2 separate regions of the Homo sapiens genome follow, and region 1 is linked to region 2. The links come from fine-mapping of genetic effects on gene expression. A gene starts in region 2. The other region holds a variant in brackets. All regions are shown on one strand. Distances are between the middles of the regions.

Region 1 (16,063 bases), 130 kb before region 2:
GTTGTGTGTAGCTTGAATAACTTTTGCATACTGAACACATCTGTGCAAAAAGATTAAAAACTAGAACACTGTGTGCACCCCAGATACCCACCCCATGCTCATTTTAGACAGTATCTTCTGCTGAAGATAGTCACGTGCTGAAGCCAGCACAATTTTTTTTTTTTTTTTTTTTAAGCTGGAGTCTCACTCTATCGCCAAGGCTGGAGTGCAATGTTATGATCTGGGCTCACTGCAACCTCTGCCTCCAGAGTTCAAGCGATTCTCCTGCCTCAGCTTTCTGAGTAGCTGGGATTACAAGCACACGCCACCACACCCAGCTAATTTTTGTATTTTTAGTAGAGATGGGGGTTTCCCCATGTTGGTCAGGCTGGTCTCGAACTCCTGACCTCAAGTGATCTGCCTGCCTTGGCCTCCCAAAGTGCAGGGATTACAGGTATGAGCCACAGCATAAACTTTAATACCAAAATCTGGTTTTAAAAAATAGTGCAAAAAGTGGAGACTACAGAATAATTTCATTTATATGGAGACGACTTTTAAAAATAGCATATTAGGAAACAGGATCCGGAAATGTATTTTAATATCTACACAATCATACACACATATATTGTTAACAATTTGCTTGCCATTATTTCTTGCATTCCCTCTGGGTTCTTACTAAAATACATACTTTATTAGTAGTTTTTTTTAAGCAAGGGATTATGGATAGTAAACATTTTTAGGCCCATGTATTTTTTAACATTTTTATTTTACCCCCTACTCCTCAGAGAGAGTTTGGCTGCTTATAGAATTACAGACAGCTATTTTCCTTCAGCATTGTAAGTATATGACACTATTGTCCTCTGACCTCTATTGTTAATGAGCATTCTATTGTCAATTTGTCATTTCTTTGTATGTAATCCATCTCTCTTTCGTAGATTATATTTTCCTTTACTGCTTAGTGGTCCATAGTTTTGCTACAGTATTTCTGGGTATAGATTTATTTTCAATATCTTGCTAATCAGTCTGAGATTTTTCAGTTCAAGGTCTCATGTGTTTCTTGAGATTTTTCTGTCATTTTATTTTCACATATCACTTAATTTCCATTCTCCTATTTTTTTTCTGCTAATTCCATCGTATACATTTCTGAACTTCTCATTCTACCGTCCAATACTCTTATTTTTCTGTCTTACAGTGCTATGATCTCTAAGCTTTTCAATGCTGTCTTCCAACTTGTTAGCCCTCTCTCTTCAGATATATCCAGGCTACCACTGGGATAATTATCAAGGGTTATTATTATAATTTTCAATGACTATATCTTTCATTTCCAAGATTTCCAATTTGTTCTTTTACAAATCTTTCTGTTCTTATTTCATGGATGCTGTTTCCTTCTTTGTCACTGGACAGTTAATAGATTATATTTAAGTTCTCATATTGATCTCTATATGCTCAGATGTTAATTTGTTTGTTGAATGTACCAAATACTTTATGATGATGAACTTCCTTGTGTGCTTAAAATTCCTTAAAAAGCTATGCTTGCTTGAGTGTTCTTCAGTTACACCTTTTCTTTTCATATGACCTATATTTGCTTTAGCCCTGGTCCAAATGGGTTGCACCGTCCAAACCACTTCTCACGTTAGCAGATTAAATCGGACCTTTTGCTCTGTATTAACGGCTTAATTTTACAATATACCTTCATGTGTGTTGTACACACTCACTTCAGATGTTCTATTGGGTACTTGGCTTCTTTACTTTTTGTGTATTAAATCAATGCTCTCAAAAGCAAAAATCTACGTCCAAAATATTTTAATACACTACATATTCCATTTAAGAGAATAACTTCCTTCATTTTGATAATCAATTTGAGGATAAATGACCAAAGACTTGCGAACTATAGGGGGGAAAATAACGTCAGGCATGTCCTGGCTCTCTACAAATCTCTTCTCAGTGTTGTATTTTATGTCTCCGAATGAAATTGCAGTAGTGCGCCTCCACTTCGCAAGCCCCTTAAAATATCTCCATTCCAGATCCCTTAGATTCATGAATTGTTTTCCTGAAAAGAATCATATTTTCAAAGAATCACATGGTGTTGTTACTCAGCCTTTCATTACTCAGAGATGCTTCATGGACAGGGTAAACCTTTGATGAACTCGAGTCCCCTCTTTCTGGCAGAAAGCCATTTCTAAAGCTTTATTTTTAATTTTTATTTATTTATTTATTTTGAGACGGAGTTTTGCTCTTGTTGCCCAGGCTGGAGTGCAATGGTGCGATATCGGCTCATCACAACCTCCGCCTCCCGGGTTCAAATGATTCTCCTGCCTCAGCCTCCTGAGTAGCTGGGATGACAGGCACCCGCCACCACACCCGGTTACTTTTTTTGTATTTTTAGTAGAGACGGGGTTTCACCATGTTGGCCAGGCTAGTCTCAAACTCCTGACCTCAGGTGATCCACCCGCCTCAGACTCCCAAAATACTGGGATTACAGAAGTGATCCACTGTACCCGGCCTAAAGCTTTATAAACTTAAGGGAGACCCTGTGATGTCAATTTCATGTAAAGCCTGCCCCTAAACAGCAATTGAGTGGGTCTGGCTAACTGGGCTTGAGTGGACCCTGCAGAGCCCCGGCAGGTGGACGGAGTATTTCATTCTGTGCTTGGATCCTAACAGAATGTGCAAATGGAGAGCTCTGCAGAGCACCGAAAGCAGCAGGGAGGAGAAAAGGATCCAAAAACAGGGAGGAAGATGGGTTAGAAGTGCACAGATTGTTAGTGTCATTTCTTCCAAGATGCTAATGTAAGCCCTAAGTATAAAAGGGCAGTGGCTGAGCTAGAATCTGGCCATTCTCCATACTCATTCAGAAACCACAAGCTTGAGGTGTCATTAGCAGTTACAATTCCTTCAAGTAGCCAATGAGCCAAGGAGAAAGAATCAAGCAAAGACACAGCACATGTTCTCCCCACCAGCAGCGATTCCCCTCTCCCTTCTCTTCCACCCTTTTCATGGCTAAATAACGCTGAAAACAACAACAAATCAAGGCTAAAGGCATGGGTTGGAGTGTAAAACCAGGAGCCAACGGGCCACGGGAACAAGTATAAGGAGAATTATGGTCACAGCAGACAAGCAGGATGACTGGTCTATTTCTGGTGGGTGACCTTACTGTCCCACATGTGGTGACATTTGAGCATGTCACCTGTAGTCCAAAGACTGAGCAGGCACCACTCCACTCCAATCAGTCCTCCATCCCTGTACTGGGAGGGCCTGGGCCTGCCTGGTGGGAAGTCTTTATATAGACTTTGTACATGTCTGAAGTAGAAGACAGGTGCCAGAGACTCTTCGTTGGGCTCATACCTCCCCAAGTAGAACAGATACTGCCATGGTGTTCAGCAGTCCATTCATAAGGCCAGTTGCCAAGTTTCAGGGAGTTTGACAAGATCTTTGGAGGCCTGGCATAGCAAGAAGTGGTGGCAAAAGGAAGGAAGGGGATCTTTAACAAGAGAAGGTTTAGAGCTGATGATTTTGATGACTAAAGAGCCTCATGTCCCAAACTCCTGACCTCAGGTGACCCACCTACCTCGGCCTCCCAAAATGACCAGCCTGGCCAACAGGGAGAAACCTGGTCCTACCAAAAATACAAAAAATTAGCTGGGCTTGGTGGCGGGCACCTGTCATCACAGCTACTCCGGAGGCTGATGCAGGAGAATCACTTGAACCTGGGAGGCGGAGGTTGCAGTGAGCCGAGATCGTGCTGCTGCACTCCAGCCTGGGTGACAGAGCAAGACTCTGTCAAAAATAAATAATAAAAAAAGAAGCTTCACGTCATGATCTCTGACAGACACTTTAGGTTGGCTTACTCCACACGCATTGCAATCCTCTTCTGCCTTCCTCTGCTATAGAGGGGGGAGCTAAGAACTCTTATTCACCAGCCTTCCCTACAGGAAGGGGTGATGATTGGACACAATTCTGGCCAAGAAGATGTAGAAAGAAATCACTTAAGGAGAGGTGTTCTGGAAAATCGTTGCTTCCGTATTAAAAGAGGACAGAAGTGTCAATGTGGCTCTTCATCCTATCCCACCTTTTCCTGACTGGAATGTGGCCACAGCCTCCGAGGGTGAAGATGTCTTTTGGACATGAAAACAAAAGCTACACACAAAAAAATGGCAGAGCCCAGGTCCTTGGAGACATTTGAAAGCATCGCTCCACAGAGAGTGGAATCACGGTCACCAGAGACAGAGTAGGGAGTGGGAGGGGAGGATGGAGAGAGATAAGTCAATGGGTTCAGAGTTATAATTAGAAGCCCTGCATAGTGGCATGCACCTGTAGTCCCAGCTACTGGGGAGGCTGAAGGAGAAAGATTCCTTGAGCTCAGGAGTTTGAGGCCAACCTGGGCAACATAGCAAGATACCATCTCAAAAAAATGTAAAATGGGCCAGGACCAGTGGCTCACGCCTGTAATCCCAGCACTTTGGGAGGCCAAGGCAGGCAGATCACTTGAGCTCAGAAGTTCAAGACCAGCCTGGGCAATATGATGAAACCCCATCTCTACAAAAAATACAAAAATTAGCCAGTTGTGGTGGCATGCACCTGAGGTCCCAGCTACTTGAGAGGCTGAGATAGGAGGATTGCTTGAGCCCAGAAGGTTGAGGCTGCAGTGAGCTGAGATTGTGCCACTGCACTCCAACCTGGGTGACAGTGTCTCAAAAAAAAAAAATTAAAATTGAAGTAAATAAATAATTGAGAACAAAGTTACAGTTAGATAAGAGGAATAAATTCTGGTGTTCTATTGCACAGTAAGGTGAGGATAGTTAACAATAAGATATGGTATCTTACAAAATAGCTAGAAGGAAGGCTTTTCAAAGTCATCACCACAAAGAAATGGTAAGTGCATGAGGTCAGGATAAATACACAGATTCGATCACTATATAACACTATTGAAACATATATTGTACTCCATATATATGTACAATGACAATGTGTTCATTAAATAAATAGAGACATAAAAAGCACTGGGAGGCTGAGGCAGGCGGATCACGAGGTCAGGAGATTGAGACTATCCTGGCTAATACGGTAAAACCCCGTCTCTACTAAAAATACAAAAAAAAAAAAAAAAAATTAGCTGGGCTTGGTGGTGGGCACCTGTAGTCCCAGCTACATGGGAGAGGCTGAGGCAGGAGAATTGCTTGAACCTGGGAGGCAGAGGTAGCAGTGAGCCAAGATTGTGCCACTGCACTCCAGCCTGGGCAACAGAGCGAGACTCCGTCTCAAAAAAAAAAAAAAAAAAAAGCATTGTTCCGGCCCTTGTCTGCGTACCCCTAGACTTCTAATTATGTAAGAAAAATAACCACTATTTGGTTTTCTGTTATTTTTGATTCCTAAGCTATATGATTCTATGGGATTTAGCCTGAACAAGAGGAGCTCATACGATAGAAGAGCAAAACGGCAACACCCACTCTCTTTTCCTCCCCCGGTGCTTGGTGCCAGTAGGAATATGTTCTTTAGTATACTTTGGAATACCAGGATCCTAAAGTTCTTCTGGACTGAGTAGGAGAGTAGAAGATGAATTGTTGCAATACTAATTACCCCTAAGGGATTACTGGATACCCTTCACTTAGATTCCTGCCTGACTCCATGCACTTTCTTTTTCTTTCTTTCTTTCCTTTCTTTCTTTCCTTCCTTCCTTCCTTCCTTCTTTCTTTCCTTCTTTCTTTCGTTTCTTTCTTTCTCTCTCTCTCTCTCCTTCCTTCCTTCCTTCCTTCCTTCCTTCCTTCCTCTCTTTCTCTCTTTCTTTCTTTCTTTTTTGAGACGGAGTCTCACTCTGTTGCCCAGGCTGGAGTGTAGTGGCGCGATCTTGGCTCACCACAACCTCTGCCTCCTGGGTTCAAGCGATTCTCCTGCCTCAGCCTCCCAAGTAGCTGGGATTACAGGTGCCCGCCGCAACGCCCAGCTAATTTTTTTGTATTTTTAGTAGAGACGGGGTTTCACCATGTTGTCCAGACAGGGTTTCACCATGTTGTCCAGGCTGGTCTTGAACTCCTGACCTCAGGTGATCCACCCGCCTTGGCCTGCCAAAGTGCTGGGATTATAGGCGTGAGCCACCATGCCCAGCCAGCATATTTCTTGAATAGACATGACATGTACCAGAAATTTACCTCTGGGATCTCAGGAAATGAAGATATGGAGGCAGAGAAGAGACTCCAACACAGTTTGTGAGACCACATCAGAGACCTCCAGAAGTTAGGTAACCAGCAGGTAATTCATGCATTAGGAAGAAAGAAAAACTTGGCCCGTATACATGTGAAAGTCATAAATGTTCAAGACCTTATCAAACATCCAAAACCCTTCTTCAGTAGGTTTTTGATTAGTTCTTCTTACTGAGTCTCAACACTTTTCATGATTTTTCCTCTCTGGTCCCAGGCTTTACTTGTGTACTTTGCGAATTATCTAGGCCAGTCCTATCATTGCTTTAATTGCACTGCTACTTAGGCAACGTAGGACTCTATGAAAGGATTTCGAAGCCTGCATTTGGCTCTGTTAAGATGTCAATGTAGGGAGTTACAGCAAAA[G/A]CTCTTCCAACTCTTTGGACCAAATATACTCACAGTAATCAATCTATTCCTTTAAATTTGCTCCTTCTGCCTCTCCCATTACTTTTTTTTTTCTTCTTTGAGACAGAGTTTTGCTCTGTTCCCCAGGCTGGAGTGCAGTGGCACAATCTTGACTCACTGCAACCTCTGCCTCCTGGGTTCAAGTTATCCTCTCACCTCAGCCTCCCGAGTAGCTGGGACTACCGGTGCATGCTACCACACCTGGCTAATTTTTAAAATTTTTTTGTAGAGTCGGGGTTTTGCCATATTGCCCCGTCCCACTACTTTTAATATAAAAATGGTGGTGTTAAAATATTTGCTGTGAAAATGGTCTTATCTTGAATCAAGAAACTGCTTCAGAGGGTTATCACAAATTGATGTAATCTATTAAAAAATGACAAAATATTACCTCTCTCAAATTATATAAGATGGAGACTTAAAGTGTAAGACACTCCCTTCTCATTAAAATTCAGCATCATAAGTTTCATGGTTTTTTGTTTGTTTGTTTGTTTGTTTGTTTTTTGAGACAGAGTTTTGTCCTCGTGGCCCAGGCTTGAGCACAATGGTGCGATCTCTGCTCACTGCAATCTCCACCTCCTGGGTTCAGGCAATTCTCCTGCCTCAGCCTCCCAAGTAGCTGGGATTATAGGCACCCACCACCACGCCCAGCTAATTTTTTGTATTTTTAGTAGAGACCATGTTTCACCATGTTGGCCAGGCTGGTCCCGAACTCCTGACCTCAGGTGATCTGCCCGCCTCGGTCTCCCAAAGTGCTGGGATTACAGGCATGAGCCACCATGCCTGGCCCAACAATATATCTTTTTAAGAGTGAATCTGAGACTTGATCCTGGAATTCTGGGTTCTCTGTTCTGCATTTTATTTTTATTTTTACTTATTCATTTTTTAGAGACAGGGTCTTGCTCTGTTGCCAAGGCTGAAATGCAGTGGTGTGATCATAGTTCACTGCCACCTCAAACACATGTGCTCAAGTGATCCTCCCACCTAAACCTCTCGGGTAGCCGAGATTACAGGCACATGCCACCAAGCTCAGCTAATTTTTATTTATTTATTTATTTATTTATTTATTTTTGGAGATGGGGTCTTTCTATGTTTTCCAGGCTTGTTCATTTTATTGACACTGTATAAAGCAAACATATTAATAGCAGCCATGAACCTCAGAACTACAAAATTGCTGTAGGTCAGTATTGGACCATTTCTGCTCTAGTAAATTTGCAATGAGATTTCCATTCCTTTTCTCCCACATGGCCTCATCTGTTTAAATTACCTGGGTCAACTAAGAAGGATCTACAAAGTTTATCTTCAGAAATGAACTTTTCTGGGGTGGCACTGGAAATGCCTAAGCTGCATAAGATTTTGGGGCTTGGAACCTTCTGTACGGTAACTTGGGCCAAGGCATTCGAGTGATCGGTGAGAATTTCATAAGGAAAAGTGTGCTTGGGAGGGGAGATCCCACACTGTGACAGCCTCTGCTGGGACCTGGAGAGCCTCTCCATGGGAGAGAGTGAGCTTGCCAGTAAGCTGCGGTAGAGGAGCTCAATCATGGATGCTTGCTTCTCTTTTTTAACCACTGTGCACCTGATAACAGGTTGGAGATCTCCTCTCACATCAGCGCCCCTGGTGAATGACATGACATTCAGGTTTCTAGCAAGTACTTCCTGTGCTTCGTTAAGTGAAATACCATGCATTTTTAGAAGATTTGATTTCTTGCTCTCCTTATTAAAATTCTCAATACATGCATATAATTCTGGAAGCTGTGGACAAAAAAAAAAGTGGTAAGTCACGAGACTGACAAAAATGTAATATTCTGGCAGACCTACAAACCCTAGAAAAAACCATAGGACAATAAATAACCATAAAGACAAAAGCATTTTTATCTTTGGAAGATATCTTTGCCTAACTAAAGCAAGTCAATTGTGGCAATGTGGAATAGAGAACAGAGAGGTCAAATCTCCGATTCACTCCCTTAAAGATGTATTATTTAGACACGTCTTATAAATGCTTGTTATAAAATTAGGCAGTTAGAATTGAACTAAGAAGTCTTGAAGATCTTTCCAACTCTGAAATTCTATGAGTGACCACGGAGAGAAATAGCTGTGGGAGACTGTGGCCTTTGCTTGTTTTGAACAATGCTATTATGTCTTTGAAGGAAGAAAGCGAGCCAGATCACTTAGATATCAGAGCTTCATCCTGTTGTCCAAAGAGCCCATAATGTTCAGGAATCCAGTGCTGAGGAGGCGACAATAGTCATTGCTCACTGGGATATGTGACCAGAGCAAATGGTGACATACATTGAGTATCTGGGAATAGTTATTGGCAGAAAAAAACAGTAACAGATCCCTGAGAGGACCTGTCCCCATCTAAAATCCTATACTTCCTACAAATCCTATCCTTTCTAAGAGGTTTCTTAGGCCATTACACTGGAAGGCCAAAGAGGCCATAGTCTCAGGTTAGGGCTGAAATTTAGGTCCTTTAGCCCAATGCAGAGTTTTCCTTCAATCCTAGTCAATTTTATTGCAAGGGCAACAAATAGAAAGTGAGCTAACGCGTGGGAAAGTAGAAGGGACTTTGGACGTCTTCCAGAATGTCAAGAGTCTGCGGCTACAGAGGCTACACAAGTGGTCCAGACCCTGGAACCAGTATGAGCTCTGCTACAAGGTGGTGCAGGAATATATGGATGCATTCTCAGTTACGCCAACTTCAAGTAAGAGGCGACAAGGGCCCGTGGACCAGGAGGATTGCTTTTAATATTTTATAATAGTCTGTTTTGTTAGTTTACCCCAAATTGTGTATCTGTCTTGTAACTGTTTTAGAAATTGGTACATAGGTGGAGATTTTATAAGTAAATGTGTTAGCACTGATAGTCTTTTTTTCCAGTGTTTTTTTGGGGAGTTAAATAGTGTGATGTTTGGACCGATATCATGAAATCTTTAGCCTGGAAATTGGGCTGGATTGTTCTCTGGTTAATACATCTTTTCCTAAAGAAAAAAAAAAAAAAGAAAGTGTGCTAACATTGGTGAATGGCTCTTTATAACGAATTATACAACCACACTATCACGAAAACAGCTCAGCACTTCTGCCCACCTGCCCTGGGAAGAGCTACACTTCTCTGTGACTAAGAATGTTAAGTCATTAAAGTGACATTTTGGAGTTTCCCATGGCTCCCAAGTGTGTCACTGTGCGTTCAATAGTTTGAATGTTTATGATTCTTGAATGTAAAGCTCCCTGTGTACACCTCGTTGTACAATGTTAAGTACATACTGAACATTGAGGAAGGGTGGCTTCTCTATTGTCCTCAGCTGGACTGGTGTCTCCAGTGAGGAACATCGTGCTGGGATTTTATTCTCTAATTCCTAAAAAAAGCAATATGAGAAAAGACAAAAATCAAAGATTAAAAATCAGATAGAATACAAAGGGGGAGGTGAGACTTCTTAAATCTTAATAAATTTGTGAGTGGGACATTTTGAAAATTTTATACCTGTATTAGTCCATTCTTGAATTGCTCTAAAGAAATATCTGAAACTGGGTAATTTATAAGAAAATAGGTTTAATTGGCTCATGGTTCTGCACACAGTCCAGGAAGCATGGTTGGGGAGGCCTCAGGAAACTTACAATTATTGGGGGAAGGCAAAGGAGAAGCAGGGCACGTCTTACATGGCCAGGACAGGAGAAAGAAAGAGCAAAGGGGGAAGTGCTATACACTTTTAAACAACCGGGTCTCATGAGAACTCACAATCATGAGAACAGCAAGGGGAAATCCTCCCCCATGATCCAGTCACCTCCCACCAGGCCCCACCTCCAACACTGGGGATAACAATTTGATGTGAGATTTGGGTGGGGACACAAATCCAAAGCATATCAATACAATTTAAACTTTTCATTTGCTTTTTCGTAGTTTAGGTCTGCCAAATTTGTCATGCTTCAACTGAGCATTTCACTGAAATACCCAAATTCTTCTACAACATGTGTATTTAGTTTTAATACTAGTGTAACAAATCCTATATGGATGGTTTTATTTTTTATTTTATGTATTTATTTTTTTGAGATGAAGTTTCACTCTTGTTGCCCATGCTGGAGTGCAATGGCACGATCTTGGCTCACTGCAACCTCTGCATCCCGGGTTCAAGCAATTCTCCTGCCTTAGCCTCCCAAGTAGCTGGGATTACAGGCATGTGCCACCACACCTGGCTGATTTTGTATTTTTAGTAGAGACAGGGTTTCACCGTGTTGGTCAGGCTGGTCTTGAACTCCTGACCTCAGGTGATCCACCCACCTCGGCCTCCCAAAATGCTGGGATTACAGGTGTGGGCCACCACGCCCAGCTGGATAGTTTTATTTTCTTGTCTTACATATTCTGATCAACTTTCAGTTCATCTAAAGAAAAACTCACCCACCTCCTTACACTCAAAAAGTGTTTTTTATTCAGGAGGAAAAGGCTCATATGTAATGATAATAATAAAAACAATAAATATTTTGAAAATAATTTACTTTGTGTCAGATACACTATAAGGCATTTTGCAGATGGAATTGTGTTTAATTTTTCTGCAAGACGTTAAAAATGGCCATGGAATCTCCACAATTCATCTCATTGATAAGTGGCAGTTAAGTTCTCTCCCACATTTTACTGGGCTGGCCTATGCTTGGCTTTGATCAATAGCTTGTGGCATTGTGTCAGTGACATAGTGTGAGTGCCAGAACCCAGACCTTAAGAGGCTTTGCGGCTTTCCTACACATTCTTGGGAGCCTGAGCCACCATGTAAAGAGAGATCTGGCTGCCTATCTGGAGAGACCATGCAGACTCAGCAGCCAGTATTGACCACTAGACATGTAGATAAAGCCATCTTGGTTCACCCAGCCCCAGACGAGCCTCCAGATAACTACAGCAGCATAAGCAACCTCAGCCAATCCCAGATGGAGAAGAACTACCTCCCAGCTGAGCAAGGCAACTCTAAAATTTTGACAAAGAGTAAATTATTATTGTTTCAAACCACTAAGCTTTGCATGAATTGTTATATAGCAATAAATACAGATAAACCCCATAAAACTTCACATTCTTGGCTTAATTTATTCCAGTGAAACCCTTATTGGTAGGTAAGAGAATATATGGATGGAAAATATATTTCTAGGTACAGGGTACCACTGTATCATGACTGGCAGCTGTGGTCACTGGGATGAGTGTCTGAGATGAACCAAAAACACTCACTTGGTATTTGGAATGAAGTGAAAACAATTATGTTTCTCTTCCTTCCTGAGTAAAGTAGAAAAACCCAGAATGGATACACACACACACAAAAACACACACACACACATACACAAACATGGATATATATATATATATACATGTATGTATATGCATATATACATATATATATAAAATCTCAAATACATTTTTGTCACTATTTGTCACTACTGAGATCACTATATTGATATACAGGACTAGAAAAGCAATACAGTGCAGCATGCCTGCCACAGACCTGTTTATCTCTAGGCAATTACAATGAGACTTGATTGTGCTTTCCTCCTGCAAAGGAAGGAAATTTTTTCTGCAAAGGAAAATATTTCTCTAATGTGCTTTACCTAAAACCTGTCAATGTCTTCCAGTCAATCATTGCTATTGTCTTTCAGACAGCTTCAGAGTTGTCCACCATAGGAAGGTTGCCTTCTCCCATCACCAAGGGTTAATAAATTTTCTCCTCCCTTCCCTCAGAGGAGGGAAAGATGTAATCTCTCGCCTCTCTCCCCTTTTCTCTCTCTCTCCCTGCCACCTCCCAATTTTAATCAGCAGTGCCAATATCCAACTTCAATGGCCAATCTCCAACTCTCTATACATGGAGTCAAAGCAATAGCTAAGAAATATGTCCTCATGTTATTACAATAGTATTGATGATGACAAGGAATGGAGCACAAATAAGTTTAGATTCTTGCTCATTCTCTTTGCTAAACTACCGTTGGGTGCATTTCCCTCTCACTGAAGTGTCAGGATTCCGAATGCTGAAACAGATCACTAGCCGAAAATGCTTTTAGACACTTAAAGGTTGACTTGACTAGCAAACTTTTAACCTCAGTTTTTGCTTGATCCAAGTCAATGCCTAAATCTAGACCAGCCCTTTGACCCAATCTCTCATGGAGAGTGTTCCTGGTGAAGTCATGGAAATATGGCCAATGGCCTGTTTACAGATTTGTGTGAGTAAAGTGAAGCTTTTGCAGGGGACTGTGGCACTTCTCTTCATCGTTACTCCCACAGATTCCTACAGTAAATTTTCCTTGTACTGTGAAGAGCAAGGGCGTCTCACAGAAACTCTCGGGGATGGTATCCTCTTCTCCATTTGCACTCACCCCCAACTTTTCACCCTTCCCTCCAAATCAGAAGGAAAAAAGTTCTCTCTGCTCATCTAATGTTAATTTTTTCTCTCTCCCACCCAGGGTGTATATTTTATCCTCCTCGTAATTCTTTTTCTTTTCTTTTCTTTTTTTGAGATAGAGTCTCACTCTGTCACCCAGGCTGGAGTACAGTGGCACAGTCTCAGCTCACTGCAACCTCCAGTTCCCGGGTTCAAGCCATTCTCCTGCCTCAGCCTCCCAAGCAGCTGGGACTACAGGCAAGCGCCACCACACCCGGCTAATTTTTTTATTTTTAGTAGAGACAGGGTTTTGCCATGTTGCCCAGGCTGGTCTCAAACTCCTGACCTCAAGTGATCCACCCACCTCAGCCTCCCAAAGTGCTGGGATTACAAGCGTGCACCATTGCGCCCGGCCCCTCCTCATAACTCTTGTGGAATATTTCCCCTCAGTTATCCTCCCTTCCCTTCCAACAACAACTCCTCTTGTCTTCCTTCTTGCTTCCTATCATTCTCTTATCTTCAGTCTCATGTTCCCCAATGGCTCCTTCCTTTCTTTGCAAATATGTAAAATGTTTTCCACTTGGGGTAATAATGCAACTTCTCTTGACTGTGATCCTACCACTAACCCTGGACTCTTGTCTCTTCTTTACCTCTGAACTTGCTGTATTTATATTTTCATCATGTAATCTTCAGTATAATGACATTTAGCTTCCACCTGGCTGATGAACTAAAATTGAATTCTTAAAAACAATAGTGACTTCTTAATTATCAATTCTAGTGTAGTTTTTACAGTCCTCACTTTTCTTTTTTCTTTTTTGAGACAGAGTCTGGTTCTCTCACCCAGGCTGGAGTGCAGTGGCGCAGTCTCGGCTCACTGCAACCTCCGTCTCCCGGGTTCAAGCAATTCTCCTGCCTCACCCTCCTGAGTAGCTGGGATTACAGGGATGTGCCACCATGTCTGGATAATTTTTGTATTTTTGGTAGAGTCGGGATTCTGCCATGTTGGCCAGGCTGGTCTCAAACTCCTGACCTCAGGTGATCCACCTGCCCTGGCCTCCTAAAGTGCTGGTATTACAGGTGTGAGCCACTGTGCTCGTCCAATTTATAAATTTCTTGACCAGACTTACAAAGACTATTCACAATCTGCTTCTGACACTTTTCTATCATTTAAAAATATCATATTTCGGCCGGGCGCGGTGACTGGCGCCTGTAATCCTAGCACTTTGCGGGGCTGAGGCGGGTGAATTACAAGGTCAAGAGATCAAGACCATCCTGGCCAACATGGTGAAACCCCATCTTTACTAAAAATACAAAAATTAGCTGGGCATGGTGGTGCATCCCTGTAGTCCCAGCTACTCGGGAGGCTGAGGCGGGAGAATCGCTTGAACCCGGGAGGTGGAAGTCGCAGTGAGCTGAGATCAAGCCACTGCACTCCAGCCTGGAGAAAGAGTGAGACTCTGTCTCAAAAAAAAATGATAATAATAATGACCATATTTCAATGCTACCGCAATGCCATAAATGTTCTCTGTACTTTAGCCAGCTGGGCTCATTTTTTTCTGAAAAAATCTTCTGCGCTTCTGTGCATTCTTTCTTTGAGCTTATGCTCACTCTGATTTCCCATTTAGTCAGACAGAATGTCCTTCCTTCTCTTTTATGACAATCTAAATAAAAACATAGTAGAACTGAAGCTGAAATGGAGAGAACCACAATGTTGAATAGCTATTGTGTCATATAAAAGGGAAACATAAATAACAGGAAATGAAATAAAGGCTAAAAATTATTTAAAGAGAACTCAATTATGGTGAATCGATTTTCTGACAAAGTTGCCAAAATAATTCAATGGAGGAAAATAGTCTTTTCAATAAATGGTGCTGGGACAATTAAATATCCACACATAGAAGAATGACATTAGACCCCTACCTCAATCCTTACACAAAATGAACCTAAAATGGATTATAGAACTAAGTATGAGAGCTGAAACTATAAAACTCCTAGAATAAAACATAAGGGTAAATTTTTGTGACCCTGGCTTAGACAATGGTTTCTTGCGTATAACACGAAAACATAAGCTACAGAAGAAGAGAATAAATAAGTTGGACTTCATCACAATTAAAAACTTTGGTGCTTTAGTGAAAATAGTGAAAAGACCAATCACAGAATGAGAGAAAATATTTACAAATCATACATCTGACAAGGAACTTGTATACAGATGTACAAAGAACACTTAGAAATCAGCAATTAAAAGACAACCCAGCTGAAATATGGGCAACGGGACTTCTAGTGTGGCTTCTCCTCTGGCATGCAAGGAGCTTGGAAGTACCAGCAACTCTTCTTAGATCTGGCAGAGAAGTAAGGTCACAGGGCAAATTGCTGACCTAAAATTGGAGAAACAGACAGGCAAATACAGGGAATTGCAGCTTACTGAAGTAGGAAGCTCCTCGAGAACAGGGCAGAAGCCTCCAGAAGAGCCAGTACAGGAATCATGTTCGGCTTTCAACAAAAGATTATAAGGCAAAAAAACAGAGTTTGAAGAGACAGGGCAAGCATCAGAACTAGATTCAGATGTGGCAGGGATGCTGGAATTACCAGACTGTGAATGTAAAACAACCATGATTAATGTGCTAAGGACTCTCATGGGAAACGTAGACAGCATGCAAGAATAGACAGGTATATAAGCAGAAGATGAGAATTCTAAGAAAGAATCAAAAAGAAATGCTAAAGGTCAGAAACACTGTCAGAGAAATGCAGAATGCCATTGATGGGCTCATTAGTAGACTGGCTATGGCTGAGGACAGAATGTCCGAGCTTGAGGATATCTCAACAGAACGTTCCAAACCTGAAAAATCAAGAGAAAAAAGGCCAGGTGTGGTGGCTTATGCCTGTAATACCAGCACTTTGGGAGGCCGAGGCGGGTGGATCATGAGGTCAGGAGTTCAAGACCAGCCTGACCAACATGGTGAAACCCTAGCTCTACTAAAAATACAAAAATTAGCCAGGCGTGGAGGCATGTGCTACTCGGGAGGCTGAGGCAGGAGAATCGCTTGAACCCAGGAGGCGGAGGTTGCACTGAGCCAAGATCGCGTCACTGCACTCCAGCCTGGGTGACAGAGCAAGACTCCATCTCAAAAAAAAAAAAAAAAAAAAAAAAAA
Region 2 (16,063 bases):
AGAGAGAGACATAAGTAAAACCAAACATTCAGATAAACAAAATCAGCCAGGAAATGATTTCCCCTTCAATTTCTTTTCTCTAAAGAGACAGGAGTCTCACTATGTTGCCCTGGCTGGAGTGAACTGGCTATTCACAGATACCATTATAGCATACTACAGCCCCAAACTCCTGAGTTCAAGCAATCCTCCTGCCTCAACCTCACAAGTAACTGGGGCTACAGGCATGCCACTGTGCCTGGCTTCTTCTTCACTTTTAAAATTGCTACTGTTATTGTTCCCTTTATCACTACCCTAACAGTCATTTTAAGTATAATAGCAATGACTCCTAATCCTATTAAATCACACTGGACATCACTTTTAACTTGTAGTGCTTAAATACTGATAACCAAAGTAGGATATCTAATTGATCAGAGCATGCATACTCAATTAACAACAAAATTGAGGCTAAAACCAGGATTCTAACCAACAAATATATATATAAGGATGTTACCCTTTTTAGCCTGTCAATGCAGTCTCTCTTCAGTCTCTCCTCAGCCTGCTGTAAGCCTAGCAGCTCCTTCGTTGAAAGTACAGACTCATCGATCACAGGGCCTTCCAAGTCTCCATCCTGCTCATTTTCCTCATTTCTAGTCTTCCGTGGCTTCCTAGGTCTGGACCTCTGCTTCTTGTTTTCTTAAGGTGGGGGAAAAATATTATTGGCAATATTAAATAATGCCACTCCTGAGTAAAAAGCAGACCTTACATATGTATTAAATCATGTGAGAGAATAAATCACATCTGCATGCAGAGCAGAAGGAAAGGTAGCTGTCCTATGGACAAAATGCTTTAATACTGTATTCAGTGAGCACATCACCTGTAGACATTAAGCCATAGAAATCATCTTTTTGGAAAATTTAAAAGAATTCTACTTCAATCATACAATTTGATTTTTATTATCTCTTCCTGGTATACTGCTGAGCATAGCAAAGCAACAGAAAAATTATACTCTGAAGGCAAGTATATCTATAATTCTATTATATTAAAATATTACAATACATATTGTAAATATATCTTACATATTCTATAATATCTGTAAGTACACCTGTTATTCTCATTAAAACCAGCCACATTTGCTTTCATCTTCTATAAGTGAACAATCTCAATAAGGCAAAATGCAAAATGTACCCCTGGACAACTCAGAAATCAACTATATACTCATCTGGAGTGAAAAATCATCATTTAGTTGCAAATTTAGCCATCAATAACACCTAAGCCGGGTCCCTCCGTTAATATGAAGAAGTCCAAGCCAAAATTTTATTTACTAAGGACAACTATCTCTCATTTTACCTTTACCTTCATTTTAGCTTCTTTGAATGGCCTGTACACTGAGCATATTTCAAAGGAAAAAAACAACTGGCCATTGAAACAAAAGTTTTCTCTAAGTACATTTGTTTATAAACTCTGCTATTAGTTCTATAATCCTTATAATGAATAAAAATCATCCTGTTCCTTTTTAAAACTTATAACTTTTCAACTTGTTAAAGTGATTGTGGGATTAAACCATAAAAAATTGTTTTAGATAGCTTTGATAACTTATATCGAGTTTTAAAAAATGAAACTATTAGTAACACATTAGTGCTTGGAAACATAAACCTACTGAAAAGCCCTACATGAAGTAATTCCTCCATCAAGTTTTCAGAGGAACTCATTACTACTAGTATGGCAATTACAATGAACTGGCAGGCTGAAAAGGAAATATAGGACCTCCAATTTTATAAAAAGCTTGCTGAGAGCGCTAAAGGATAAGCAGCAAGCATTGTGCTAAAACTACCTGAGATGACTATCTCAAAATTCTGCAAACACCTTCCACAATATAAGAAAATTAAAAAATTAAAAAAAATTAAAGTGTTGGAAAAGTAGTTTTAAAAAATCAATCAAAATACACTGAACAAATAAAATACTAAAAGGTAAGTTGTCATTTCAACAGAAAATCAGGCTACCTTGCGCTACCTTAATATTTCCTTTTTAATACTCCCCCGACTCCCAATTAAATTATCATAATCTTTTAAGGCCAGTATTTCTGGTCTGAACAATTTTTTTTTTTCAGATAAGCACTTCTTTTACTTAGAGATGTATCCATTCTCATTTAGTTTGCTTATCATTATAAACATTATCAAAAAAACTGCATCTAACTTCAGTGTTTATTACAGGTTTCTTAGGCAAAAACTCTATAAATTTAAAATAATACTGCAATACCCTTTAGAAAAGCCCCTATTAGTTCACAAGCCAGTAAGTGATAGGGAACCGAATTCCTTTTTTAAACTCTTCCTCTCTTCTGGTCACAAAGGTTTCTCCATATAACCATATTTGCTGTCATTTTCTAGAAAGAGTAACTTCTCTCTTCCTCCAAAGACCTCAATCAACTCCTACTGCTTTTATACAGAAGTGGATGGCTGCAGAAATTCTGTCAGATAATGGCAGCTACCATGATGGTGTATCTTATTATGCAACAGATGTAAAGCACTTTATATGTACTGCCTTATTTAATCCCTACAGCAATCCTGCTAATACTGTCCCCATTGTACAGATGGGGACAATGCGAATCCAAGAGAATAACTTCTCCAAGAACACATGGCTAAATCAAAGTAAAGGGATTGAAAATATAGATTAAAATATGGATGGGGCCAGGTGCAGTGGGTCATGCCTGTAATTCCCAGCACTTTGGGAGGGTAAGGTGGGAGGACTGCTTGAGCTCAGAAGTTCAAGACCAGCCTGGACAACATAGTGAGATGTCATCTCTAGCAAAAATGAAAAAAATCAGCCAGCAAGATGACTCACTCCTGTGGTCCCAGCTACTCAGGAGGCTGAGACGGAAGGACTGCTTAAGCCCAGGAGGTGAGGCTGTGGTGAGTCATGATTGCGCCATTGCACTCCAGCCTGGGTGACAGAGTGAGACTCTGTCTAAAAAACAAACAAACAAAAAAAGGATGAAATCCTGAAATTCAGCCTTCTAACTAACAACATAAAAACTGGAAAGAAATTACTAAAATCCCTTCTTGGAACATACCCATTCACATCTAGAGTGGACTAGCACTGAAAGGCAATATAACCTTCTAAACCTACTTTCACAGGCATGCATGGTAAAAACTGTCAAAATCTCACCGGAGGGACTCTTGGAGGGTAAAGCTAGGTACTGATGAAAAATTCTTGGCCAGGCGTGGCAGCTCATGCCTGTAATCCCAGCATTTTGGGAGGCCGAGGCAGGTGGATCACCTGAGGTCGGGAGTTCGAGACCATCCTGGCCAACATGGTGAAACCCTGTCTCTACTAAAAATACAAAAATTAGCTGGGCGTGGTGGCAGGCACCTGTAATCCCAGCTACTCGGGAGGCTGAGGCAGGAGAATTGCTTGAACTCGGGAGGCAGAGGTTGCAGTGAACCGAGATCATGCCATTGCACTCCAGCCTGGGCGACAAGAGTGAAACTCCATCTCAAAAAAAAAAAAGAAAAAAGAAAAATTCTCATAATTACTTGGAGGAAGACTACCTGGCTTACCTCAGATTTATTGTAATAAGAGTTCTCTATATTCGGCATTCCAAGTTTCCCATATTTTATTTGCATATGGTTCACAAAGGACATGTGTATTTGAGTGGATGCTTTCCAGCTAAGATCATTAATGGCAATGTCCCAAATACATTAAACTGGCAATCTAGGACATTTGAAGGCTAAAGTAGGGGCAGTAATGTAGAGCTGAAAAAAACAGAAGGTAGTACCGTATGTGGGGGGGAAAAAAGCAACTCCACCATAATTTCCATTATATCTTCTCACATTGTTGAATAATACCCTTCCTTATTAAGACACAATTTTGATAAAGAAATTTCGATCTCTTTAATGAGATCCTTTTTAGTTTATACTTTCAGTTGAATCTCTCTAAACTAAATAATGTTATACCGAAGCTTAATGCTTCCTATATGAAGATTTTCAAGGGATAGAAACTGAATAATTCTTTACTTAATAACTGTGAAAGCATATACCTGTATGTCATACAGCAAAAACATGCAAACTTTTGAATTACCTCCAATAAAAAAATAGCAAAATGCATTTCCTATTCAAATACACTTAAAAGCAACTTCTTTAGTTGCTTTTATAAGAATACACATAAAATAAGAAAACATATAAAAGTTTTTGTGGTCAGCCAACAGTTCCTTTTAATGTCTAGTTGCAAATTTTTGATCTATAAACTTTCTTTTTAAAATGCTTTTCAGCCGGGTGCAGTGGCTCACACCTGTAATCCCAACACTTTGGGACGTCAAGGCAGGCAGATCATGAGGTCAGGGTATCGAGACTACCCCTGGCCAACATGCTAAAACCCCAACTCTACTAAAAATACAAAAATTAGCTAGGTGTGGTGGCACGTGCCTGTAGTCCCAGCCACTCAGGAGGCTGAGGCAAGAGAATTGCTTGAACCTGGGAGATGGAGGTTGCAGTGAACCAAGATCGCACCACTGCACTCCAGCCTGGGCTACAGAGCGAGACTCCATCTCAAAAAAGAGAATAATAATAATAAAATGAAATGGTTTTCAAGATCAACTTCTACAAGACTATAGGTAACAAAATTAAATACCCACATCCCACCTGGACAGTAATACAGAAACACTTAAATATACACAATTTTTAATAAAGAAAAACACAAATCAAAAGCCCAGAAATTATCAAGAAATATTCGGCTCCGCCGTCAGGATTTCAGGTCCAGCGAGGCTGAGTTAATGGCCAGAGTAGCAGAGTCCCCAATTTTAGTTCTACTTCCTCATTTACCGCGCTGCATAAACAGGTCTGTGGAAATTTAACCTCTCTGAGCTGCAGCTGCCTGATTTGTAAAACTGTGATTCCATTTTTGATATATTACAACAGAGTACTGCATCAGATAATTCCTCAAGCTATTTCTAGCTTAAAGATTTAAGTTTTATGTCTCCCTACTACTTAACGCCTTTATAACACTTCATTCTGTTTCTGCTACTTGATATTAATATATACTCTTAATTTTCAAATTTAAAAATATCTGAGGGCCAGGCGCGGTAGTTCACGCCTGTAATCCCAGCACTTTGGGAAGCAGAGGCAGGTCGATCACTTGAGGTCAGGAGTTCAAGACCAGCCTGGCCAACAGGGAGAAACCCTATCTCTATTAAAAAACAGAAAAATTAGCTGGGCATGGTGGTGTGCACCTGTAGTCCCAGCTACTTGGGAGGCTGAGACATGAGAACCGCTTGATCCTGGGAGGCAGAGGCCACAGTGAGAGGAGGTCACATCACTGCACCTCCAGCCTGGGTGACACAGTGAGACTGTCTCAAAAAAAAAAAAAAAAAATCAGGCTGAATGTGGTGGCTCACGCCTGTAATCCCAGCACTTTGGGAGGCCAAGGTGGGTGGATCACTGGAGGTTAGGAGTTTGAGACCAGTCAGGCCAACATGGTGAAACCCTGTCTCTATTAAAAATACAAAAATTAGCCTGATGTGGTGGCATGTGCCTGTAGTCCCAGCTACTTTGGGGGATGAGACAGGAGAATCGCTTGAACCCAGGAGGCAGAGGTTGCAGTGAGCCAAGATCGCGCCACTGTACTCCAGCCTGGGTGACAGAGCGAGACTCCGTCTCAAAAAATAAAATAAAATATAAATAAACAGATCTGACAACTAGAAGTATCTGTGAAAAAAGAAAAAAAATCAAGTAGCACATTTCCCCCCATTTAATATTAATAAGTGCTTGAGACTTTCATTTTTATCCTAAGACCTTGTAAAGATAAAAGACGACCTTTTGGCTTTTAAGTATTCTATACGCATGGGACACAAATTCAAACACCTTATAGGTAACCAGTGTATGAACTGGCCACTGTGAGATAACATGAAGAGAAAAGGCATCGGGTGATCTAGAAAGTGTCCATATTCCCTGAATGCATTTAAACTAAAAAAATTTATTTAAAAGTGCTGGCCAGTTTGAAACACATTCTATACAACCACTAAAAAACGCTTTCAGCCACTAAACTTACAAGTCCATGTTTCCAACTGTGATATTGTTTCATTTTTTCCATCCAATTTGTGACTTTATTTCATTTCGGTATATATCTCCCATTAGATAAAAATAACCTTCCTGTTTGCAGAAATCGTTGCCACATGGATAAAATCTACTTTTTACTTTTAGAAAAACATATTATCTCCTTATTATCCCTTTGGGGCAATTAACCAAGCATGTGAGGGCACCGAGAAATTAGTTTTGGTCTTACTGAAACCAAACAGCAAAGCTTGAATCTATTTCTGACTTTCTAAACTTGTTTCTCAACCTGTTTGTCACGATCCCTTTTGAAAAACAAAGATCTCAGATTATCCATCTCGGGACACTGACACTACATCCAAAAGATATATCTCTTGTGGCAGGAGATATACGCAGTGTATACTGTGTTTTTACATCAACAAATAAGTTTTTTTTTTAAAAAAAGCTTTATATTCTGTCATTTATATTATGAACACATTAATTATTCAAATACAAAATTATAATCACAATTTTGAAAACACACAAACCACTGAGCAATTACGATATGGTCCCCTGGAGCATATAGCTACCCTCTTCTGTAAAAAACACGTTACAGAAAACATGTTTACTGACGTAAAGTGAGCCCTGGGGCAAAGTAAACTTTTAAAGGGATCAACATATGAAATGTGTTTTAGCTGCTCAAATATCATGATTACTATCCTTAAAATAATCACACTAAGTGACCATTTCTTAAAACAGAAACTGTGAAAAACTGAAACTAAATTGCTGAAAATAACAAAACTCATTTGGATGAAAAAGAATAAAACATTGCTGACTCTGGGGTTGTGATCTGACAAGTTGGAAAACATTACCAGGACTTCCTGCTTCCATTTCTGACGTGGTTTCTAGGCTTGTTAGGTCTTTATGAAACAGTCGTCTTACAGTTCTGCAGCCTCTTGTGTCTTGCCACCTATAACCATCTTCATTTTCTTGAAAGGAGTCTTTTCTTTGTCGGTTTATAACAGGAATTCTAGGTCCAGGTTTGAATTCTCTCCAGTTGTCTGAATTACCAGTATGTTCATCAGACAGCCATCTCTTACTCTGATCTTTGTGGCTGTCATTCATCCAAGCGGGTTGACTGTAGATTGGGTTTTTAAATGCATATGGATTGCTGGAAACAGCACATGGTCCTTTTCTGGGGGTATTCCCATAGTTCCCTGGTGTTATCTTCTTTTTTTGAAGGCCCTTTTCCATTTTACTGCCATGGCCTTTAGCATGGTCATCTATTATTAAATAATCTTGTTGGGGGTGACCCCTTCTGAAGTCATCATCATCCATAGTCCCCCGGTCTTTAGTGCGCTTCACGAAATAAGGTTTTGCTGTATCTCCCATGGTCTTTGACTTCAATTTTCTTACTTTGCACCTGAAAGAAGGTATTTTGGGGAAATATCAAACTATATAACAAGATATCATACAAGTATACAAAATAACAATTTATCGTACAGATGCCCCAAAGCCTGTAAGAAAGAAACTCCCTATTTTTTTAAAATAAAAATTCTATCACATTCTTAATAATCAGTGCTTTACCCTAGAGGTTGGGAGGCTTGGTCCTCTAATATTCTTCATGAAAATTAATACTTACTATTTAGCATGAAGATTAAATGTGTGAATAAGAGAAGCTCTATAGGTTCCAGAACTGTAGCATAGTAGAATATTACTCATATCAAGTATGGTCGGCTTTTCCCTCTGTAACAAGGCGTTTCTCTTCAAAGAAAACCTCATCCCAAGCCAATATTATTACTAAACTACCGAAACAGTCTTTTGTTTTTTAAGTTGGCAATTACTTGTAAGTGTTATACACCGAAACTTTACGTGAAAGGAGTACTACATTTCTCAACTCCAATTTTCCGTCCCTTCACCACCCCTATTCTGGACAGACCGGCTTTGAGCGCTTAGGTTACGGAGGGGCTGGGCTTCCGACCAAGGTGCAGCTGTAATTAAAGAGGCTGGGTTTCCGATCAAGGGACAACTCCATCTAACCTCCTCAATCCCCGTTCTCCAACCCCAAACAAGTTTGGTTTTGTCAGGAACAGCAATTCCCTGAGGAATGACACTCCTCTTCAATCCCCATCTGACCGCTCCACCACCGATCTGCCTTAGTTTCCACCCTTTTGAGCCCGACGTGGAGAAAGAGGAGGCGTCCCTGCACTCCTGGCCAAGAAGCCACCGTGGGGACCAGGAAGCAGGAAGTGACCTGCTGTCTCCATGGGGTTCCAGGGTTCCCCCGGCCGGCCAGGGGGCCAGAGCCGAATGTCTTGACCCAAATCCCGTCTTCTGCGCCCGCAGTCTGACAAAAAGTGAAAACACGGACTCGAACCCGAGGGCTCAGCCTCTGCCGGCCTGGGGGTTCCTCGGTCACCCAAACTGGTGCGAGGAGGCCGGCGGGGGATGGAACCAACGTACCTCCGGGGCCAGGCCGGACAGCTACTCTGGAGTCCAGGAAACCAACTGGAGAATCAGCCCGGAGGCGAGTCTGGCAGGGACGTTGGGAGAAGGCGCCCAAGAGCACTCACCACCTTCGCCGCGGTCCCCAGCCTCTTCCTGTCCCGGCCGGGCTCCCTCTCCGTGTTTTCCTTCGGCCCCACTTCCGGCGCTCAGCGCTGTCTCATTGTGCGCGATTGGGAGCCGACTGTGCCCCCGCCCTAGCGCTCCGCCGCGCACACCGGAAACGAGCGACGCGCCCCGCCCCGCGGTGCCCCGCCCACGCTCCGACCCCGCCTCCCGCGCCTTTGCCAGCCTGGCCTCTCCTGTCCGGCGCCCCAGCGCACTCGCTCCAGGTGTCGGGCGCCGGGTCTGGCCACCGGGCGCAACCGTCGGAGCGGGCTAATTACTGGCTCGCCGGATAGCCGGTTCGCCGGCGCTTGGGGGCCAGGCCCGAACTTCTTACCAGAGCGGCGCCCGCCCCTTTTCTCTCCCGGCTTCGACGCTCCTCTGGTTCCCCTCTCTGCTCGGGAGGCTAAGTGCTCGGGAGAGGCGCGGGAGCCAAGACTTATGCACCCGGAGAGGGACGCGGAGCCAGCGGTCGGGCAAAGCCGCATTCCCCGCGCTTGGGGCCTCGGCTTTGCCCCTGGGTGCTCCCCGGTTACTTCCAGGGGGAGTAAAGGCTCCGAGGCCTCGTAGCGCTCTTGGTGTTTTTCTGATAATTCGTAGTGATTAATGTTTTCGTGAATTCTTAATTGCCGACCTTGTAGAAATGCCAGCATTTAAACATCCACTGCTCACCCAGATCTCAAAGTGGTCAAGGAAAATGCTCTGCTTTTTTCTTAGGTTGTGTAAGGATTACTTTTACTTGGAAAAAAAAAAAATCAGTTCATTTCGAAGAATATGTGTAATGGCAAGGGATGACCAGAGAGCGTTACATTCGAATTTTTGAGTTGAAGAGTGCACACCTCGAACTCGGGGTTGCTTTTTCTTTCTTTACTGTATGACCTTCCTTGCTGTTTACAGTGTTCTAAATGCTTTGAAAAACATCAAGCAACTAGTGAAATTAGGGAGCGTTGGGAAAATCGACAGTTTTCATTTCTCTGCTTTTTTAAAGCATGTAAATTGAAAGCTGTCAGGTCCTGTGGAGCAATGGTCTTAAAATAATAACACACAAAGTTCTGGCTATGCCAATAACTGTTTTGAAGGCTTTACAAATATTAACTCCTTTGTTTTATATTTTTGTAGAGACAGGGGTCTCCTATGTTGCCCAGGCTGCTCTCCAATTCCTGACCTCAAGCCATCCGCCCAACTTGGCCTCCCAAAGTGTTGGGATTACAGGGGTGGTCCACCATACCCAGCCTTAACTTCTTTAATCCTCACAGCTTCATGAAGACTATATCATTATCCCACTTTTAAAGATGAGGACATTTAGCACTTGCAGTGAAGTAAATGGCACTGCTGCAATCCAGACCCTGAATATGAGGCTGTTATTAACCATGTGGCTATACTAAAAGTGATATAAAACACATTCCTACAACTTTTATATAATTCCTTACTTAGATATTTTGATTGTGAAAATACGTGAGGATCAAACTGATAGTCTCTTCAACAGGCAGACAGTGGCCTTGAAAATATAGTCCAAAAGGGAGTGTGGAGATGCATGATTACATTAATTCTGAGACAGCAGCGTCACCACGCCCCACCCAAACCAGTAATTCCTGTGCAAAAGAACTGGTTTAGAAATCTGCCTCCACCTAGAGTTCTAGAGTAGCAGCAGAGGATACATACTTTTAAGGATTTTTTTTTTTTTTTTGAGATGGAGTGCCACTCTGTTGCCCAGGCTGGAGTGCAGTGGCATGATCTCCGCTGGCTGCAACCTTTGCCTCCACCTAGAGTTCTAGAGCAGCAGCAGAGGATACATCTTTCTAAGGATTTAATTTTTTTTTTTTGAGACAGAGTCTTACTGTGTTGCCCAGGCTGGAGTGTAGTGGTGCGATCTTGGCTTACTGCATCCTCTGCCTCCCAGGTTCAAGTGATTCTCCTGCCCCAGCCTCCCAAGTAGCTGGGATTGCAGACAGGCACCACTATGCCTGGTTAAGTTTTGTATTTTTAGTAGAGACGGGGTTTCACCATGTTGGCCAGGCTGGTCTGGAACTCCTGACCTCAAGTGATCCACCGGCCTTGGCCTCCCAAAGTGCTAGGATTACAGGCGTAAGCCACCAGGCCTGGCCCGATTTAAAATACTTTTGCCAGGCACTTTGGCTCCTGCTTGTAGTCCCAGCAACCCTGGAGACTGAGGTAGGAGGATACCTTAAGCCCAGGAGTTGGAGGCTGCAGTGAGCTATGATGGTGCCACCACACTCCAGCCTAGGCAACAGGGCAATACCCTGTCTCTCTCAAAAATAAATTTAAAAAATAAAACGTTTTGAATTTGCGTTTTCTTCAACGTCTTTCCCAAAGCCCAACTTCTTTTATTCTAATGGTTGCTTTTAAGATTCATTTTGAGGACAAATCAGGCTCTCTCAAATAAGATGCAGTACTAATCAAAATATATTGACAGCAGAATATACCTTTTTCTGTCCATATTATGCTGTAATGGATATTTAAATTGGTCCTAGGAATTCTTACAATCTGGTTGGAAATTTTGATTTGAGTTTTCTTTGGATGTCACTGGAAGGATTAATGAGTTTCTCAGAATCTTTATGGTGATTGCTTCACGGTCTTGACATATTTCCAACAACCTGGAGCAGAAATGTGAGGGCAAAGGCTGCCATATACTGTTAAGCAATGTTCAGAGGACCTTAATACTGCTCCATATGTTACAATATATTTTCTATCTTGAGCTTAACATTGTAATACAACTTGAAATCTTGTGATTCTATCTCGAAATTAACATTTAATACATAATATGTCTTGACATTCTTGTAATTCTATCTAGAAATTAACATTGTAGTACATGTAATACATCTTGGCATTTTTGTAATTCTATCTTGAAATTCACATTGTAATACATGTAATACATCTTGAAGTTTACATTGTAACACATGTAATACATCTTGACATTCTTGTAATTCTATCTTGAAATTAACATTGTAATACATCTTGACAAGTCAACTTTGAACAAACCCAGTGCTTTTTTTCTATACAGCCATGGAGTCAGAAATACAGGAATTATATTCATAGCTTTATCAGCCAAATTCTTTCCCCAGTGTTTTATTTTGTTTGGTTTGGTTTGGTTTTCGGTTTTTAGAGCTCTAATGCTTAAATGCCAGCGGTTTTTATCCACATTGTTAGCAAGTTATGTTGGTTTGTCCTTCAAATCTGTCTGGAGTCCAGTAACTTATCACTACTTTCTCTGCTTCCAGCCAAATGCTCACCACTATCACTTGCTTCCACCTTGTCCTCCAATCTACTCTTGACACAATAGCCAGAAAATGCATATTAAAAATCAGACTGAGTTACCCCTCAAAACCTTTCACTGGCTCCCAATTTCTCTGGGAGTAAAAACCAAAATCCTTCAATGACTCAGGGCCTTTCCCTTTACCTCCCGATCTCAGCCCTTATTCCTCTTACCCCAGTGGTATAATATAAAATATATTTGGCCTTTGTCCCCAGTTTCTGTCATAGAGCTCTTAAAATCCTTGAAATTTCCTGAGTGATAGAAGTGTCTTTCCGTGTTTATAGTGAGCCCCTAAACTCCTGAGTTTATGCTAATGAGATGATTTAGGATGGGGGCCCTACATAGCCTCAGCATGGGGCTAATCACCAGAAAGACCAAGTGATTGGAGGATTAGAGGGTTAGAACTTTGAGCTTCACCAACTGACCTCTGTGAAGGGGAGGAGGGGGCCGGAGATCAAGCTCTCTAAGTAGTCTTGAACAAAAAGATTTGATGAGATTCCCTATAGTTGAACACATGTAGGTGCTGAACGTTGGCTCACCTAGACAGGGCATGGAAGCTCTGTGCCCTTGCCCTATGTACCTCTTCATCTGGCTGTTCATCTGTATACCTTATAATATCATTTATAATAAACCAGTAAGCGTGTTTCCCTGAGTTCTCTGGGCCACTGGGGACACGGGAACCTCAGAAACCAGTCAGTCAGAAGTATGGGTGGCTTTGACTTGTGACTGGTATCTGAAGTGGGGGCAAACTCGTAGGGCTGAGCCCTCACCTGTGGGATCTGACACTATTGCCAGGTAGATAGAATTGAAATGGATTATAGGACACCAAGTTGGTATAATTGCTTCTGTAAAGGCAGAAGGAACTTTATACCCTCAGAAGCTTTGATGGTTTGAATCTATAAAACAAACTGACAATAGACAGATTAACAGGAGAAAAAACATATCGATTTATTAACTTGCAAGCTAGCGAGACCCAAACAAAGTATGAAACTCAAAGAAGGGCCAAATGGCTGAAGCTTAAATGGGACCCTGAGCTACAGAAAGAAACCAGGGCCTCTGATGGGGAGGTGGTGACCACAGTCATTGAAAGGTGAGGGTAGAGTAAGTGTGTGTTGAGCAAAAGTTTCTTCTTATACAGATAAAGTCTTTCAGACTAGAAAAATGGTTTTAAAAAAATAGGTGAAAAGTGTGTCCAGCCAGACGTGGTGGCTCACACCTGTAATCCCAATACTTTGGGAGGCTGAGGCCTGAGGATCACTTGAGCCTAGGAATTTGAGACCAGTCTGGGCAACATGACAAAACCCCATCTCTACGATAAATACAAAAGATTAACCTGGCATGGTGGCACACACCTGTAGTCCCAGCTACTCAGCAGACTGAGGTGGGAGGATCACCTGAACCCAGGGAGGTCGAGGCTGCAGTGAGCTGTGATTGCACTACTGTACTCCAGCCTGGGCAACAGAGTGAGACTCTGTCTAGAAAAAAAAAAAAAGCCTGTCCAGGTACATTGTCCTGGGCTCTCCTGAGATACGAGTTCATCTTCTCTAGTTAGTGTAGATTCCAAGGAGGGGGTCTAAGACAATTGCATTTCTTCTGGAGAAACTTCCCTTAATCAGATAAAGGAAGTTTAGAGAAAGTCCCTCCCTTCCTGTAGGTGGGTGAGGGTGGTGGGGTGAGGCAAGAGAAAATCAGACAGTCCTTGGTTCTGAGATTTATTTCTGAGCCCTTTCAATTTCCTTGTTAAAGGCACACAGCATGCCAAAGTGCCACATGTTGGGGCATCATTTTCTAAGCTCCAACACTTGGTATGTGGGGAAATCACCAATCTCCACTTATCTGGTCACAGAAATGTGCTGTATTGAATGTGAGAATAGAGTGGAAACTATTTTTTTCATTACATCCCCTCCCATACACACACATTGCACCCCGACTATGCTAGCCTTGCAATTCTTCCATCACAAGCCTCAGGGCTTTGCGCTGGGTGTTCCCTCAGCCTAAAACAGTTTCCCTAAGACATCTATATTGGTCACTTCCTCTTTCCCTTCATGTCTTTGCTGAAAGGTCACATTCTTAATGCAGCCTATTCTGACCACCAATTTATTTATGTATTTACTTATTTATTATTTATTTTATTTATTTATTTATTTTTGAGATGGAGTCTTGCTCTGTTGCCCAGGCTGGAGTGCAGTGGCGCGATCTCAGCTCACTGCAACCTTCACCTCCCAGGTTCAAGCGATTCTCGTGCCTCAGCCTCCTGAGTAGCTGGGATTACAGGTGCCCATCACTACACCCAGCTAAGTTTTTTGAATTTTTAGTAGAGATGGGGTTTCACCATGTTGGCCAGGCTGGTCTTGTACTCCCAACCTCAGGTGATCCACCCACCTCTGCCTCCCAAAGTTCTGGGATTACAAGCGTGAGCCACCACACCCAGCCCTGACCACCCATTTAAATTTTAATCTAACATTTTACCCGGTGTATTTTTTTGTCTTGTAAAAAGAATTTAAAAATCTAAGCTGTTGAAACTTTAAATTTTTTGAACCTTAAAGGAATGTGCTTATGGAGCCTGAGTCACTTGACAGGCAGCTATAACCTAGGCAGCTGTAGCCTTTGTTTCTCTCATTATAGATTAACCTTCTTCTTTACCTATATTGTTTTGTAAAATGTTGTAAATGACTAATGGGCTCCAGAGAAGACCCCTTTTCTCTTTACTGTTGATCTTCATTATAGATTACCTTTCCTCTTAACTCTCTCACACTAAGGCTTATGACTAGCACATTGTCTAAGAGGGAATGTTAAATATACTCTTAAGTTGAGAAGAAAATGAAAACAAGCTGTATGGAAATGAAAACAAGCCATAACTAATTAAATTGTTGTTATAACCCATAAATCAGCCTTCTATGCAAAATTTTGCCGGCACAGTGGCTTATAGGCTGGGCGTGGTTGTTTACCCTATAATCCCAGCACTTTGGGAGGTCAAGGTGGGAGGATTTCTTGAGCCCAGGAATTTGAGACCAGCCTTGGTAACGTAGTGATGTTATATATAAAGTTTCGGTGCTGCAAAAGAAATAGCACTTGAATATAAAATTTTCTTTTTGATTCTCAGGAAGGCAAGGTACTTCTATAGAAGGGTGTGCCCTTACAGATGGAGCAATGGTGAGCACACACTTGGACAAGGGAGGGGAAGGGGTTCTTATCCCTGATGCATGTGGCCACTGCTACTGTGTCCTTCCCTTATTGGCTAGGGTTAGGCGACAGAGGCTAAACTAATTCCGATTGGCTAATTTGAAGAGAGTGATGGAGTGAGTGGTTTGGCAGGAAAAATGGTTATGACAGAGCAGGTGATTGGAATGAGTCAGGGTGGAGTAGGTAATCGAAAAAGGTTGCTTTATGAGGAAGTTAAGTTTAAAAGTAGAAGGCAAAGAATTGAACATACTGACATATTGATTCTTTGAAAAGAAATTTAGGACTCATATCTAACAACCCCTCCTCTTCTATTTCCTTACAGCTTTCTTTTCAAACTTTTTAAACATGTCTTGGCTTAGTTGTTTTGCTTGATTTTGCAAAAGAAGAAGCTTCTCTGGATAAGGTGAGGATAGTTAAGGGAGGTTTTAGTGAGTGCCATTTTTATGAGCCTCTGCATCAACCTACAGATGCATGGTATGACACAGCAGCCAGCAAGAATAAGTACACCTATTATGACTGTGAGGGAAGTAGGAATTGTGGCTACTATTGCTTTCCATTTACCGAACCACTTTTCTAGCCATCCTGTAAAAGGGTCATTTACCCCTGAGTTGCGGGCTAACTTGTTGGATAGAGCAGTCAGACCTTGCGATGCTTTTGTTATACTTCCATTAGGGGCAGTGTTGTTTGGGATGAAGGTGCAACATTGAGTTTTAATCATGATGCAAACTCCTAATTCTAGTGTAGTTAATAAATCGCTATTGGTTGTAGTAGATGTAGTTTATCCAATCTACATTTTTATTAATTGTCACCTACCAAAATATTGATGCAAATCCTACAGCTATTTGATTTTAGGCTTTAAATTGATCTGGTATTCCCCATGGGACTCTAATTGTGTCTAAATAGATGTGAGAGTCAAAAGACCCATAAGGGGCTTCTCTCGCTTTATGATGTCTTATTTTTCCTTCCTCTGGTTGATGAAATGCCAGGGTGAAAGGGA

Evidence for each region. PIP is the estimated chance that this variant, and not a neighbour inherited with it, causes the effect.
Region 1: its variant is fine-mapped to the expression of TUT7 in whole blood (TOPMed, PIP 0.93).

The regions. Positions count from the first base shown.
Region 1 is chr9:86,219,705-86,235,767 of GRCh38, forward strand. It overlaps C9orf153 (chromosome 9 open reading frame 153), which reads right to left. Exons shown (of 4, transcript NM_001276366.4): 2 at 9,834-9,925; 3 at 8,151-8,326; 4 at 561-2,029. The coding sequence starts at 9,899. The coding sequence ends at 1,984. Among named protein-coding and RNA genes, the nearest start is that of C9orf153, 32 kb to the right of the region's middle. The variant G/A (reference allele first, on the strand shown) is at 6,537.
Region 2 is chr9:86,345,809-86,361,871 of GRCh38, forward strand. TUT7 (terminal uridylyl transferase 7) reads right to left here and starts at 8,602. Exons shown (of 27, transcript NM_024617.4): 1 at 8,463-8,602; 2 at 6,872-7,422; 3 at 491-672. The coding sequence starts at 7,391. RefSeq lists an enhancer at 8,451-8,660 and a silencer at 8,681-8,860.